Regions from separate parts of the Homo sapiens genome. Here region 2 is linked to region 1. The links come from fine-mapping of genetic effects on gene expression. Tissue or cell type: aorta. Region 1 holds a variant in brackets; the other region holds the start of a gene. All regions are shown on one strand. Distances are between the middles of the regions.

Region 1 (8,104 bases):
GATTGTAAACAGTAGTGTGTCTTGTGACTTGGCAAACCTTTGGGAAAGAGAACCTAGTGATGAATGAGTTCGCATTATGTGAAAAGACTAACATTAAAAAAAACATTTGTTTCTTTACCCCATTAGTTGCCAAAATGGATTCATAATTTTTGGAGGCAGACATATTTTGGGAAAAGTCTAGAAAAAAGTACAGATTTTTAAATAATTACTTATTAAAGAAGTGAGTTTGATTTAAGTATCGGGATAGAACAACAAGCAGTGACATGTTTCTCCTTACCTCTTTTCTACTTTAGTGGAAGACTGGTTTGTGCCATTGAGTGAGCATATGGTAATATACTAGATATTAGCAGGGACTTGTTAATTTGATGCAAGGAAATAAATAAAAAATAAATAAATTTTGTAAGTAGCATGAACTTTTCAAAACACTTTTTTTCCAGAAATTCTTTTCAGGCTAGATGGCAACACAAAGATGACGCAATAGTGAATTCCAACAGGTTTTATTAAAGGATGATTGGACTTTTAAATTGTACTAATTGACATGTTTGGAAGGGTAAAAAAATTAACATTGGTAAGAAGTAAAAAGCATATATTAATGTTTTTGAAATCCATGAATTAGAGCAATACGTTTAAATTGTGGCATTAGGTGGTATCTTGTGGGAATTTTAAAATATTCACAAAATTCTTTTTTTTTTTTTGAGATGGAGTCTCGCTCTGTCGCCCAGGCTGGAGTGCAGTGGCACGATCTCGCCTCACTGCAAGCTCTCTGCCTTCCGGGTTCACGCCATTCTCCTGCCTCAGCCTCCCAGGTAGCTGGGACTACAGGTGCCCGCCACTGCGCCCAGCTAATTTTTTGTATTTTTAGTAGAGATGGGGTTTTACTGTGGCCTCGACCTCCTGACCTCGTGATCTGCCCGCCTCGGCCTCCCAAAGAGCTGGGATTACGGGCGTGAGCCACTGTGCCTGGCGACAAAATTCTTTTTTTTTTTTTTTTTTTTAAATTTATTTTTTTACTGATAATTCTTGGGTGTTTCTCACAGAGGGGGATTTGGCAGGGTCATGGGACAATAGTGGAGGGAAGGTCAGCAGATAAACAAGTGAACAAAGGTCTCTGGTTTTCCTAGGCAGAGGACCCTGCGGCCTTCCGCAGTGTTTGTGTCCCTGATTACTTGAGATTAGGGATTGGTGATGACTCTTAACGAGCATGCTGCCTTCAAGCATCTGTTTAACAAAGCACATCTTGCACCGCCCTTAATCCATTTAACCCTGAGTGGACACAGCACATGTTTCAGAGAGCACAGGGTTGGGGGTAAGGTCACAGATCAACAGGATCCCAAGGCAGAGGAATTTTTCTTAGTGCAGAACAAAATGAAAAGTCTCCCATGTCTTCTACTTTCTACACAGACACAGCAACCATCCGATTTCTCAATCTTTTCCCCACCTTTCCCGCCTTTCTATTCCACAAAGCCGCCATTGTCATCCTGGCCCGTTCTCAATGAGCTGTTGGGCACACCTCCCAGACGGGGTGGTGGCCGGGCAGAGGGGCTCCTCACTTCCCAGTAGGGGTGGCCGGGCAGAGGCGCCCCTCACCTCCCGGACGGGGCGGCTGGCCGGGCAGGGGGACAAAATTCTTATCTGTAGAAACCTATATTTATGACTGATATTGGATCAGTTTCCTAACAGTTGGAATCACATAACACAAAATATGCAAGTTGCTTAGTTGCTTTAGTTACAAAATTTTACGATAAGCCCAGAGTATTTGTACAGGTTACATATTAGAAACTTAGTGGATTTATTTTATTTTTTATTTTTATTTTTTTGAGACGGAGTTTCGCTCTTTCTCCCAGGTTGGAGTGAAGTGGTGTGATCTCGACTCACTGCAGCCTCCACCCTGTCCCCCTGCCGGGTTCAAGTGAGTCTCCTTGCCTCAGCCTCCTGGGTAGCTGGGACTACAGGTGTGTGCCATCACGCCCAACTAATTTTTGTATTTTTAGTAGAGATGGGGTTTTGCCATGTTGGCCAGGCTGGTCTCGAACTCCTGACCTCAGGTGATCCCCTTCCCTTGGCCTCCCAAAGGGCTGGGATTATAGGCATGAGCCACCATGCCCGGCCAACTTAGTGGATTTTTAACCTGGCCTGGGGTGTGGACTGCTGCAGAAGGTGAAGAAATTAGTCCATGTTCAGTGATTTAAAAATTAGTTGTCTTGGCCGGGCACGGTGGCTCACACCTGTAATCCCAGCACTCTGGGAGGCCGAGGCGGGCGGATCACGAGGTCAGGAGATCGAGACCATCCTGGCTAACATGGTGAAACCCCATCTCTACTAAAATACAAAAAATTAGCTGGGCGTGGTGGCGGGAGCCTGTAGTCCCAGCTACTCAGGAGCCTGAGGCAGGAGAATGGCGTGAATCTGGGAGGCGGAGCTTGCAGTGAGCTGAGATTGCGCCACTGCACTCCAGCCTGGGCGACACAGCAAGACTCTGTCTCAAAAAAAAAAAAAAAAAAAAAAAAATTAGTTGTCTTTCACATTAGTGTGGTCTAGCTGGTTTTGAAAATTTGTTATTATACAGAAGTTTCTCTAGGCCCAAAATTTATTTCATTCCCTGTCCCCTCCCTTTACACTGGATACTTGAGAGCAGTGGACTTTTGTAGATATTTCATATTTTGATCCTCTCCGTTTGTGGATAATTAATTAAAATGAATTATAAGTTTATGTGTGTGACTACTATTTATGATTATGAGTGTGTAGTGGTTGGTACAATAATTGGGTATTCTTTTTTTTTTTTTTTTTTTTGAGATGGAGTCTTGCTCTGTCACCCAGGCTGGAGTGCAGTGGTGCGATCTTGGCTCACTGCAGCCTCTGCCTCCCGGGTTCAAGCAATTCTCCTGCCTCAGCCTCCTGAGTAGCTGGGACTACAGGCACGCGCCGCCATGCCTGGCTGATTTTTTTGTATTTTTAGTGGAGATGGGGTTTCACCATATTAGCCAGGATGGTCTTGATCTCCTGACCTCATTCCATCTTCCTCGGCCTCCCACAGTGTTGGGATTACAGGCGTGAGCCACCGTGCCCAGCTGGGCTTTCTCTTATGGAAATACTTTACCTGTGCCAGAGAAACTAAGTTTATCATTCAAGGCCAGAAATCAGGATATCCTAGCCAACCCCTGGCCTCTACTAACAAAATATTCATGTTGGAGATAACTAAATTGGCACTAAGTGAAGAGTTGCCAATATAGAAGTTTGTTTGGCATATTAAAAATTTGGCACCTGAATGGTTATTGTCAATTCTGTGTTACAAATTTTTTGCCCAAATTCTGCATATTTTCTCTTTTTTTTTTTTTTTTTTTTTTTGAGATGGAGTTTCGCTCTTGTTGCCCAGGCTGGAGTGCAGTGGCATGATCTCAGCTCACTGCAGCCTCCACCCCCCCAGGTTCAGGCAGTTCTCCTGCCTTAGCCTCCCAAATAGCTGGGATTACAGGCATGTGCCACCACGCCCAGCTAATTTTTTCTGTTTTTAGTAGAGACGGGGTTTCTCCATGTTGGTCAGGCTGGTCTCGAACTCCTGACCTCCGGTGATCCACCTGCCTCAGCCTCCCAAAGTGCTGGGATGATGGGCGTGAGCCACCGAGC[C/G]ACCGTGCCTGGCTTCTTTTTTTTTTTTTTGAGACGGAGTTTTGCTCTTGTTGCCCAGGCTGGAGTTCAATGGCGCGATCTCGGCTCACCGCAACCTCTGCCTCCCAGGCTCAAGCGTTTCTCTTGCCCCAGCCTCCAGAGTAGCTGGGATTACAGGCGCGCACCACCAAGCCCAGCTAATTTTTTGTATTTTTAGTAGAGAGAGGGTTTCATCATGTTGGCTAGGCTGGTCTCAAACTCCTGACCTCAGGTGATCCACCCGCCTTGGCCTCTCAAAATGCCGGGATCACAGGCATGAGCCACCGTGCCTGGCCATTTTCTGCATATCTTCTATGTAATCATTTTGGCCGACACTGTGGCTCACTCCTGTAATCTTAGCACTTTGGGAGGTGGAGGTGGGAGAATTGCTTGAGCACAGGAGTTTGATACCAGTGTGGGCAACATAGCAAGACCCTGTCTCCAGGGAAAAAAAAAAAAGGAAGAAATTTTCTTAAAAAAAATTCATATATATAAAATTAAATTCAAAATATTGGTGATAAGGAATTGAATTTGTTCAGATTTTCTGTTTTTTGAAATGTATCTATGAGGAAAGAAGTATAATAGTTTTGTATGCTAAGCTTTGTCTAATTCATCTGGCAATGAATTCTGCAGTGATTTTTCCAGATAACTGAAGTTTACCCTTTGAGGCCCTTAGACATTTTTAAAAAAGTTTACTAGGCTGGGTGTGGTGGCTCACGCCTGTAATCCCAGCACTTTGGGAGGCTGAGGTGGGTGGATCATGAGGTCAGAAGTTTGAGACCAGCCTGGACAACATGATGAAACCCCATCTCTACAAAAAAATACAACAATTAGCCGGGCGTGGTGGCACATGCCTGTAATCCCAGCTACTCGGGAAGCTGAGACAGGAGAATTGCTTGAACTCAGGAAGCGGAGGAGCGGAGGTTGCGGTGAGCTGAGATCACGCCATTGCACTCCAGCCTGGGTGACACAGCGAGACCCTGTCTTAAAAAAAAAAAAAGTTGACTAATCTGAATGGAAATATTTCTAAAATACATTATCTTTTTATGCTTTGCAATTCCTCATAGTGTAGGTTTGTTTCATTGTTTTTTTTAAATACTGAACTTTATTCTGAACATCTCTTATTGACCCCAAACTATGTACTATAATTTATCAGTTTCATGTCTGTTTTTTTTTCTTTTTTTTTCTTTTTGAGACGGAGTTTCGCTCTGTTGCCCAGGCTGGAGTGCAGTGGCACAATCTCGGCTCACTGCAACCTCTGCCTCCCGGGTTCAGGCAGTTCTCCTGCCTCAGCCTCCCTAGTAGCTGGGATTACAGGCATGCACCACCACGCCTGGCTAATTTTGTATTTTTAGTAGAGACAGGGTTTCACCATGTTGGCCAGGCTGGTCTTGAACTCCTGACATCAGGTGATCTGCCTGCCTCCGCCTGCCAAAGTGCTGGGATTACAAGTGTGAGCCACCGCGCCAAGCCATATCTGTTCTTTTTTTTTTTTTTTTTTTTTGAGACAGAGTCTCACTCTGTTGCCTAGGCCAGGCTGGAGTGTGCAGTGGTGCGATCTCGGCTCACTGCAACCTCCACTTCCCTAGTTCAAGGGATTCTCCTGCCTCAGCCTCCCTAGTAGCTGGGATTACAGGTGCATGCCACCACACCTGGCTAATTTTTGTATTTCTGTAGAGACCAGGTTTCACCATGTTAGCTAGGCTGGTCTCAAACACCCGACCTCAGGTGATCCGCCCGCCTCTGCCTCCCAAAGTGCTGGGATTACAGGCATGACCCACCGCGCCTAGTCCATATCTGTTCTTTTTTTTTTTTTTTTTTTTTTGAGACAGAGTCTTGCTCTGTTGCCAAGGCCGGAGTGCAGTGGCGTGATCTCAGCTCACTGCAACCTCCGCCTCCCGGGTTTAAGCGATTCTCCTGCCTCATCCAAGTAGCTGGGACTACAGGCACCTGCCATCATGCCAGGCTAATTTTTGAATTTTTAGTAGAGAAGGGGTTTCACCATATTGGCCAGGCTGGTCTCGAACTCGTGACCTTGTGATCCACCCGCCTCGGCCTCCCAAAGTGCTGGGATTACAGGCCTGAGCCACCGCACCCGGCTAGCCTGTGTCTGTTCTTTAAAATTGTTTTGTTTTCCTTACTCTCAGATTCTTCTTGCTGCTTATTGTGCCTTGTTGCTGCCTGTTGTGCAATTTCTTCCCTCTTGTATTTTACTGAACTTCATCTGAAGAAGCCTTAGTAGCCAGATAAACAAGCTTGTTTGGGCTAAAAAATCAATTGCTGTGTGAGAGTTTGTTGGATTCTCTTCTGAGTAAAGGGTATGTGTTTTATTGTACGGACTTTGTATCACCTATTTTGGCTTTTCATCCAGGCCTTTTTTTTTTTCTTTCTTTTTAGCTTCCTGGTTCTAGATACAACTGATACTCTGATACAACCTGGGTAAATGTGGTCTTGAGTAGTAAATTATCTGTGAAGCTTCTCCGAACTTTGCCACATAAATGAGCCTGCTCTTGTTGTGAAGTAAATCTTACTCTAATCTGTATGTGAGTCAGTGGGAAATAACTGAGCCTTCGGATGGCTTTTGTTGTTAACTGAGATTAGTTCTCTAGATTTTAGTGATTTTGTTTTGAACACCATACAAGTATGTGGTTCTTGGTTTATTTGGTCACTTGTAATCTCTTTAAAATTTTATTTTAAATTAGGAAGTATTTTAGAAATACAAGAAAGTCACACACTATGAGATTAAACAGATGTTAACATTTTGCCCCATTTTCATCAGACTGTGCATGCTTTTTTTGGGGGGGAATAAAATGTCACAGATACCACTAAAGCCCGTTTCCATCTCGTCCCACCCTGCCTCTAGAAGTAACTTCTTTCTTCAGGTAGGTGCGTATTATTCCTTTTTATTCCTACGTATAGTTTAAAACTTTAATTGCATATTAGTAGCCACAAACATCACATACCAATATTCTGTGCCTTTTGCATTTTTACATTAATGGTAATTATTTTTGACCTTCTGCAAATGGCTCTTTTCAGTGTTTCTTGTTAGAAAACTTGGCTCAACTTGAGTTTACTAATTATCTGCTTCTTCTTGTCTTTAGCTATTATAGAACTGTTCCACCAAGGCAACAATTATTGCTATTTTAATGGTGAAATCAGTTTTATTAGGCAAATTGACTCAGGCTTCAGACTGGCATTTGGAATTGTCACACTGGAGATTTTCTTTTACTGAAGTCTCAGGACATTGACAATCAGAAAAAAACCCTCTTGAGTCTTACTATCGTACATGTAAGATATGTTCCTGAGTGACTATAGTAAAGACTCATTCAGGAAAATGTTATCTCCGATTTCTGCCTCCCTAGCTCATAGGAAACTTCCATTGTAAAGTTGTTACCAGGCGTCAAGCTGCCTCTTTGGTACAGCCCTTACTTAGTATTTGGCTCAGTTGAAGTGCAGTCTATATAGGAGGCCAAGAAGACTTAATCCTGGGTTTGAAACAAAGCAAGGATACACTAACATTCTATCCTTTAATAACATCAAGTAGAAAAATTGAAAATGAGCTTGTTATCAGTGCACTTTTATATGCCAACCTTGTTTCACTTGTGTTTTAAACTGGGAAACTGAAGATTTTAATGCTGAAATTTCTTTGAATTATTACCTGTTTTTTTGATAGTGGAACACACAGCTAATATTTACTAATATGAAGGTGTCAAAGGTGAGAAATCATGTACTACACCATCAGGTCAGCACTACTGTTTGGAAGAGCAGCATCACAAAGAGCAGTGTTATACTGCGTTGTAGTCAGCACATACACTTATGTCCAGACAGATATTTTAAATTACCTTCTTGGGGTAGTACACATATGCTGATATCCAAAGTGCCATATAATACAATACATAGTTTTTAAACTTCATATCATTCTGATCAGAAGCTTTATAAACTGTTAGGTGAATGCTGTTAGATGATATGAGAGCACAATTTAACCTGTGTGTGTGTATATGTATGTCTTAACATCTATTAAGTGATGACTACATATGAGGCACTAAGTGCTAAAACAGAGACTTTACATAGATTATCCCATTATTGGTCAACTTTTTAAATAAGTGCATCTCTAATATAAGACAAGATGCTGACCAATTTTTAAAATGTGAATGGATTTCTATTTTTAAGATAAGTACCTTTGTTCCTTTGGTTCCTCCCTCCCACCCTTCCAGAAATGGTAGTATCCTGGAAAAAAAAAATTAGTAGCAATTCAAGAAACAGCTTAATTCATTAGTATAAATAGATGAGTTTCCCCTAAACACAGGAGGAGTTGGAAGGTACTTGAAATTGGATGTTGTGCATGGTGCCTTTCCAAAATGCACAAATACTTTCTCTCAAATGGTTGCAGTAGTAATGTGCTGTGTGATTTGGCATGTATAATGTTGTACAGGTATCTTGACATTGGTGGATTAACTGCTTG
Region 2 (8,104 bases), 46 kb before region 1:
CTTATGCACATAAACCTATACATGATTTACATATAGTGACAGCGGCTACTCTGGGCACAGTGGCCTATGGGGTAGCCCTGCTCTGCAATGAACAGTACAAATTTAAAAAAAAAGATAGATACAGTCAGAGCTAGACTGGCTGGGTGTGACGGGTCACACCTGTAATCCCAGAATTTTGGGAGGCTGAGGTGGGAGGACTGCTTGAGCCCAGGAGTTCGAGACCAGCCTGGGCAACATAGTGATAACCCGTCTCTACAAAAATTTCTTTTAAAAATTAGCCAGGTCGGCTGGGCGCAGTGGCTCACGCCTGTAATCCCAGCACTTCAGGAGGCTGAGGTGGGTGGATCACGAGGTCAAGAGATCGAGACCATCTTGGCCAACATGGTGAAACCCCGTCTTTACTAAAAATACAAAAATTAGCTGGGCGTGGTGGCATGCGTCTGTAGTCCAGCTACTCGGGAGGCTGAGGCAGGAGAATCTCTTGAACCCGGGAGGCAGAGGTTGCAGTGAGTTAAGAGTGAAACTCCGTCTCAAAATAAATAAATAAATAAATAAATAAAGGGCTGGGCGTGGTGGCTCTCACCTGTAATCCCAGCACTTTGGGAGGCCAAGGCGGGCCTCCTGAGGTCAGGAGTTCAAGACCAGCCTGACCAACAGACCAACATGGAGAAACCACATCTCTACTAAAAATACAAAATTAGCCGGGCATGGTGGCACATGCCTGTAATCCCAGCTACTCAGGAGGCTGAGGCAGGAGGATCATTTGAATCCAGGAGGCGGAGGTTGCGGTGAGCCAAGATCGTGCCATTGCATTCTAGTCTGGGCAACAAGAGCGAAACTCCATCTCAAAAAAAAAAAAATTAAATATATGATTAAAAAAGGATCCTATACACTCCAAAGTCAACTCCCTAACTGATATGACAAAAATTACCAATAAAGGCAGGGATGCTGAGAATCAGGAAGCCCACATTATTCTGCATTAAATACAGACTCTAGTACAAAGGAGAAAATACCATCATGTTATTAAGAGAATGACACCCAACCCAATTAACCCAAAAAGGTCTCTTTGGGATAAAGTAGCAACAAAAAATTGTTATTCTAATACCAATACCCAATTGTCTCAGACACCTACGACACTTGTGATGCCATAGTCTTCTTCATTCGTTCAGTTCTCTCTATCAGTCCCTCCTTTGAAAGAGATGATATGCGTGCATCACCCTCAGGAGGAACATAGGCATCAAATATACCAGCTGTAATAAAGGAAGAAAAAAATTAAGAAAGTGTTGAAAGATTGAGAAAAACTCATAAAATTGAAGTAATGTAAAATTGGGAAGGATTGTGGATATGAAGTAGACTAATGAAACAGACTTCCATGTAGAGAGAACTATGTTACACTAGAAAAAAACAAAACAAGGCCGGGCACAGTGGCTCACACCTGTAATCCCAGTACTTTGGGAGGCCGAGGCGGGCGGATCACAAAGTCAGGAATTCAAGACCAGCCTGGCCAAGATGGTGAAACCCCATCTCTACTAAAAATACAAAAATTAGCCGGGCATGGTGGCAGGTGCCTGTAATCCCAGCTACTTGGAAGGCTGAGGTAGGAGAATCGCTTGAACCCAGGGGGGCAGAGGTTGCAGTGAGCCCAGATTGTGCCACTGGGCGACAGAACGAGACTCTGTCTCAAAAAACAAAACAAAACAAAACAAAAAAAGCCAGAAAGATTTAAGTCTTCTCTCAGAGCCTCAGTTTCTACTTCCACAAAATGGAGAAATTTCACTCTTGCCTTCTAGGGACAGTGTGAAAGTAAGTTCAAAGAACAACTTCATGATATATAGTGTATATAAGGTTAATCATTATTGAGGTTGAACTGACTTCGTGCTTAATTAAATATTATCAATCATAGTCCAAGTCATCCCAAGTTCCAGAAGATCTCTGACAGAAGGATCCCAGGTCAGGGTCCCAGAAATACCTCACCTGTACAGGCCAGATGTATGGAACGGTCCGATTTTTCTGGAGGAATAACCAATCCTGCTTTCCGGGCATGTTGCATAAACTCCTTTTCTGTTTTAAATTTAGGTTGATAAATAGGAGGTGTGAAACGTTTTTTAGTTCTTACTGGAACTATAGCTGCGGACTGAGTCACCAGAACTGGCTGGAAGGTAAAGGAAAGGTTAGGAACCTAGAAAAAAGATCTACTATCTTTTACAAACTCTAAGCAAAGCACTATAGAGAGGGAATATCCAAAGAATGCTTCAGGAACAATTATAAAACAATATCACAGGGAAAAAATGCATTAGGACCTTAATACTTATGGGTGTCTCTAAATAGAAGACAGTTAGCAACCTTTATTAACATCACATTTACTAAAGGCTTTCCTTTAGAACTTCCCACAGTACAGGACTATGCTAACTCCTACGGATACTGAGTTGATCAAAGCAAGTTTCAAAAACTGATGGTGATGGGGAAACACCAACTCAATACTGAAATGGGCAGAATACTATTCTTTATTATTTTTTGAGGCAGATCGCTAGCCTAGAGTGCGATGGCACGATCACGGTTCACTGCAGCCTTGACCTCCTGGGCTCTAGCTATCCTCCCACCGCAGCCTCCCAAGTAGCTGGGACTAAGGAGTGCGCCATCGCATCTGGCTAATTTTAAAATTTTTTTGTAAAGACCAGGTCTTATATGTTGCCCAGGCTCATTTCGAACTCCTGGGCTCAAGCCATCCTTCTGCCTCGGACTTTCAAAGTGCTGGGATTACAAGTGTGAACCACCGCGCCGGGCCCTGAATGCTATGCTTAAAGCATAAGCAAAGTCCTCTTGTAGGCATCTGCTCCATATGTACTCGTGATATTTTGCTCATCCTATCGGGAGTCTCGCTGTAAACTTTATTCTGTCGTTTTAGCACCCAACTGACCAATAAACCCTCGAAAGATCAGGAGATCTTTTCTCTCTGATCATGAGGTTTGCTCAGACGGGGCAGTGACAATATGGGACGCCCTCATTTTCGGCTACTCTTCAACGTAGTTCACTTATAAGAATCGAAGATTAGGGAGTCCACCTTCCAACCCATTACTTGTCTCTCCTTTAATATCTCCTCGCCAGACAGACCCAAACCAATCCGGAAAAACTTAATATCCGTTAATTCACTCGCTCTCATGGCCCTGTCTAGGCTATCCCCATTCGACCACTGAGCTCCGCAGCTAGGTCCTGTCCACCTAAGCCTCTTCCCCGGCCTAGGTATGACTCGTATTGTCCCAGCTCACCAAGGACAATTGCACAGAGAGTATTTCCCTCGACTCTGTCCTCTCCTGTAGCCCCTAGGGTCCTATCGGCCCCGTCCCTACCCACCTGCCGAGACCACCAGCCCAAAAACCTCGATAAACAAGAGAACCCTTGAGGTATGGGGGCTGCCATCTTGTTCCCGCAAAGGCCGCCGGGAAGGGAGCTGAGAGTGAAGAGCGTCGGGTAGGAGAAAAGCCGCATAGGGTGGAGCTAGCACAGGAGTGGAATTTTCCAGGGAGCGCGCCCTCCGCCGAAATGTGAGCAGCGAGGACGCGCACGTGCTCGCGGGAGTGGGGGAGGGTGGAGTAAGGAGGGCGGAGTACGGCCGCGCGTGCGCAGGGAGACAACGTTGGGCGTAGGGTGGAACGAACTGTTGTCCCCCGCCAGCGAGAGAGCGCTTGAACGCGAGCTGCGCCTGCGCCCGAGGCTTTCTGAAGGCCGGGGAATGGGCATTGCTGTATGCTTGGCACATTGCCGTTTATTCCATTAGTTAAAAAAGGAAAAGGAGGCCGGGCGCGGTGGCTCACGCCTGTAATCCCAGCACTTTGGGAGGCCGAGACCGGTGGATCACCTGAAGTCAGGAGTTCGAGACCAGCCTGGCCAAAATGACGAAACCCCGTCTCTACTAAAAATACAAAAATTAGCCGGGCGTGGTGGCACACGCCTGTAGTCCCAGCTGCTTGTAAGGCTGAGGCAGGAGAATCGCTTGAACCCAGGAGGCAGAGGTTGCAGTGAGCCGAGATCGCGCCACTGACTCCAGCCAGAGCTAGACTCCGTCTAAAAAAAAAAAAAAAAAATTAGTCGTAGGGTGGAACGCACGGTTGTCATGCGCCAGCAAGAGAGCGCCGGGCTTGGTGGCAGGCGGCTGTAGTCTGAGCTACTTGGGAGGCTAAGGCAGGAGAATCCCTCGAACACAGGAGGCGGAGGCTGCAGTGATCCGAGATCCCGCCACTGCACTCCAGCGTCGGTGACAGAGAAAGACTTTGTCTCAAAAAAAAACAAAAAAAGAGATTGACTACTGTCTTCTACTATGTTTACTAAAGCAGAAGACACGTGAATTGACAAAAACATTTGTGATTTGTCATTTCGGAAAGGAGTCACAGAGCAATTACGTAATTTACTTAAGGTTAGATAGATGATAACTGGCAGAACCGAGATTTGAATCTAAGCAGTCTAATTCCAGAACCCATGCAGGTAACTGCTACGTGCTGCTTCATGTTAAGTTGTTAAAGGATTCGTGATGTTGGGATCACCCTGGTAAATTCAGTAGTGTAAACGTTGCTGAAAGGCAGACACTTTCCACACTTAGCCGTTGGTTATTATTCTGCCAATTACAGCTTACAGAGTTCTCATCTACAATATTTTGCAATAAGTTAGGAGCTACAGGCTGTACATACAAGAAATTTCAGGCTGAAGTAGAATTGCTACAAAGGTCGAAGCAAAGTGCTGGGGACTATCAGAAGAACTGAAAGATTACTTTTGGGTTTGGAGATCACGTGTTGTTGTTGTTTTTGGAGACGGAGTCTCACTCTGTCACCCAGGCTGGAGTGCGGTGGCACAATCTCGGCTCACTGCAACCTCTGCCTCCCAGGTTCAAGCGATTCTCCTGCCTCAGCCGCCAGAGTAACTGGGATTACAGGTGCACGCTGCCATGCCCGGCTAATTTTTTCTAGTTTAGTAGAGACGAGGTTTCACCGTGTTGCCCAGGCTGGTCTCCAACTCCTGAGCTCCGGCAATCCGCCCACCTCGGCCTCCCAAAGTGCAAGGATTACAGGCGTTTTTTAAAGCTTGACTTCGCAGCTATATCGTACATTCTTATGTGGTAAGTATTTCCCTACAAGTTCCAGCCACAGTATTGAACCTATAGCACGACACATTAATAGTGACATGAAATTAGTGCTGTATGTATGTGTTGAAGAGTATGTGGGGTCGTGTGGGGTGGCTCACACTTGTAATCCCAGCACTTTGAGAGGCGGAAGTGGGTTAGATCCCTTGAGTCCAGGAGTTCAAGACCAGCCTGCCCAATATGGCAAAACCCTATCTCTACAAAAAAATTAAAAAATTAGGCCGGGTGCGGTGGCTCACACCTGTAATCCCTGCACTTTGGGAGGCCGAGGCAGGCGAATCACGAGGTCAGGAGATTGAGACCATCCTGGCTAACATGGTGAAACCCCGTCTCTACTAAAAATACAAAAAAAATTAGCCGGGCATGGTGGCAGACGCCTGTAGTCCCAGCTACTCCAGAGGCTGAGACAGGAGAATGGAGTGAACCTGGGAGGCGGAGCTTGCAGTGAGCCGAGATTGTGCCACTGAACTCCAGCCTGAGCGACAGAGCAAGACTCCGTCTCAAAAAAAAAAAAAAAAAAAAATAGCTGGGCATGGTGGCCCCAGCTACTGGGGAGGCTGAGGTGGGAGGATGGCTTAAGTCCAGGAGGCAGAGGTTGCAGTAAGCCAAGATCCCACCACTGCACTCCAGCCTGGGCAACAGAGCTATTCAGTGCCTATAGAAGCATAGGGAAACAAGAAAAAAGAAAAAAATAGAATATATGTTATTAAGCATTTAAATAAGCTATATCTGATTATTTAACAGACTCCTGTCCACCTACTCTAATCCCTAGAAAATAAAACATGATTTTTTTTTTCTCTTGAGACAGTTTTCACTCGTCAGCCAGGATGGAATGCGATAGCGCAATCTTGGCTCGCTGCAACCTCCATCTCTCGGGTTCAAGTGATTCTCCTGCCTCAGCCTCCCAAGTAACTGGGATTACAGGTGCCCACCACCACGCCCAGCTAATTTTTTGTATTTTTAGTAGAGATGGGGTTTCACCATGTTGGCCGGGATGGTCTCAAACTCCTGACCTCAGGTGATCCGCCCACCTCGGCCTCTCAAATTGCTGGGATTACAGGGGTGAGCCACCGTGCCCGGCCAAAACATGAATTATTTTTACTGGTATTCCCAACCAAAGTGAGGAAAGTTTACTCCATGGATGAGAGGTGTTTTTTTTGTTTGTTTTTTTGTTTTTTTTCAGATGCAGTTTCACTCTGTCATCCAGGCTGGAGTGCAATAGCTCGATCTCAGTTCACTGCGACCTCTGCCCCCTGGGTTCAAGCGATTCTCCTGCCTCAGTCCCCCGAGTAGCTGGGATTACAGGTGCCTGCCACTATGCCTGGCTAATTTTTGTATTTTTAGTAGAGATAGGGTTTCACCACATCGCCAGGCTGATCTCTAATTCCTGACCTCAGGTGATCCATCTGCCTCGGCCTCCCAGAGTTCTGGGATTACAGGCGTGAGCCACCGCGCCTGGCCAAGATTATTGATTAATGCAGAACATTAATATAATTTATCTTAGATTACTTCCTCCACCATTGAGTTTTATGTTAGCCTCACACAGTAGCCAACACATCCCAGATCATCTCTGCCCACCCTCTGATCAGTTTCTCAGTTAATACAAACTTGTTCCATATCAGCCTGGATGAAATAATGATAGGGGAGTCAATATCATTTAATTGCTTAGAGATGAGCTATAAGTTAGTTTTGTTGTTGTTTGATGAGCTACTGTTTTGGAAAATTCATATCTTCCTACCTCATCAGCTTCATGGAAAATTGGGAGCTGGCCAGGCACAGTGGCTCACGCGTGTAATCCCAGCACTTCGGGAGGCTGAGGCAGGCAGATCACCTGAGGTCAGGAGCTCAAGACCAGCCTGACCAACATGGAGAAACCCCGTCTCTACTAAAAATACAAAAAATTAGCTGGGCGTGGTAGCGGGCGCCTGTAATCCCAGCTCTTCGGAAGGCTGAGGCAGGAGAATTGCTTGAACCCGGGAGGTGGAGGTTGCGGTGAGCCGAGATCATGCCATTGCACTCTAGCCTGGGCAACAAGAGCAAAACTCAATCCCCCCCAAAAAAAAAAAAAAAAAAAAAAAAGAAGAAAATTGGGAGCTGTCTGTTAGAGAAGTAACACCAAAAGGATATTTCTTTTCTTTCTTTTTTTTTTTGAGATGAAGTTTCACTTTGTTGCCCAGGCTGGCGTACAGTGGGACGATCTCGGCTCACTGCAACGTCGGCCTCCAGGTTCAAGTGATTCTCCTACCTCAGCCTCCGAAGTAGCTGGGATTACAGGTGCCCGCCACCAAGCCTGGCTAATTTTTTCTATTTTTAGTAAAGATGGGGTTTCACCGTGTTGGTCAGGCTGGTGTCGAACTCCTGACCTCAGGTGATCCACCTGCCTCATCTTCCTAAAGTGCTGGGATTACAGGCATGAGCCACCGTGCCCAGCCAAAAAGGGTATTTCTTAATCCTACAATCTTAGTAATTCACATTTCAGAAAAAGCAAGATAAAAAGATCTTGTCACGATGATGGGAGCAAGAGAAGAGAACTCATTGTGCAAGTAGAGGAAGGAATCGATTGTTAGGGGCTCAGTCTTGGCAAAGAACACTCTTGCACATAGTAGACACTCCAATATTTATTTATACAATAAGCAGATGTGAAGAATTCCAGTTGAAATATGATGGGGCAGGCCGGGCGCGGTGGCTCACGCCTGTAATCCCAGCACTTTGGGAGGCCGAGGCGGGTGAATCACGAGGTCAGGAGATCGAGACCATCCTGGCTAACACGGAAACCCCATCTCTACTGAAAATACAAAAAATTAGTCGGGCGCGGTGGCAGGCGCCTGTAGTCCCAGCTACTCAGGAGGCTGAGGCAGGAGAATGGCATGAACCCAGGAGGCGGAGCTTGAAGTGAGCAGAGATCTGGCCACTGCACTCCAGCCTGGGCGAAAAAGCGACACTCCATCTCAAAAAAAAAAAAAAAGAAAAGAA

Evidence for each region. PIP is the estimated chance that this variant, and not a neighbour inherited with it, causes the effect.
Region 2: it holds the start of MRPL45, and the variant in region 1 is fine-mapped to the expression of MRPL45 in aorta (GTEx, PIP 0.95).

What each region holds. Positions count from the first base shown.
Region 1 is chr17:38,246,923-38,255,026 of GRCh38, reverse strand. It overlaps the pseudogene NPEPPSP1. Among named protein-coding and RNA genes, the nearest start is that of MRPL45, 46 kb to the left of the region's middle. The variant C/G (reference allele first, on the strand shown) is at 3,625.
Region 2 is chr17:38,292,497-38,300,600 of GRCh38, reverse strand. It overlaps MRPL45 (mitochondrial ribosomal protein L45), which reads right to left and starts at 3,433. Exons shown (of 8, transcript NM_032351.6): 1 at 3,352-3,433; 2 at 1,975-2,152; 3 at 1,133-1,250. The coding sequence starts at 3,417. LOC105371760 (a long non-coding RNA gene) reads left to right here and starts at 4,996. Exons shown (of 3, transcript XR_934732.2): 1 at 4,996-5,107. RefSeq lists enhancers at 2,998-3,548, 3,549-4,097.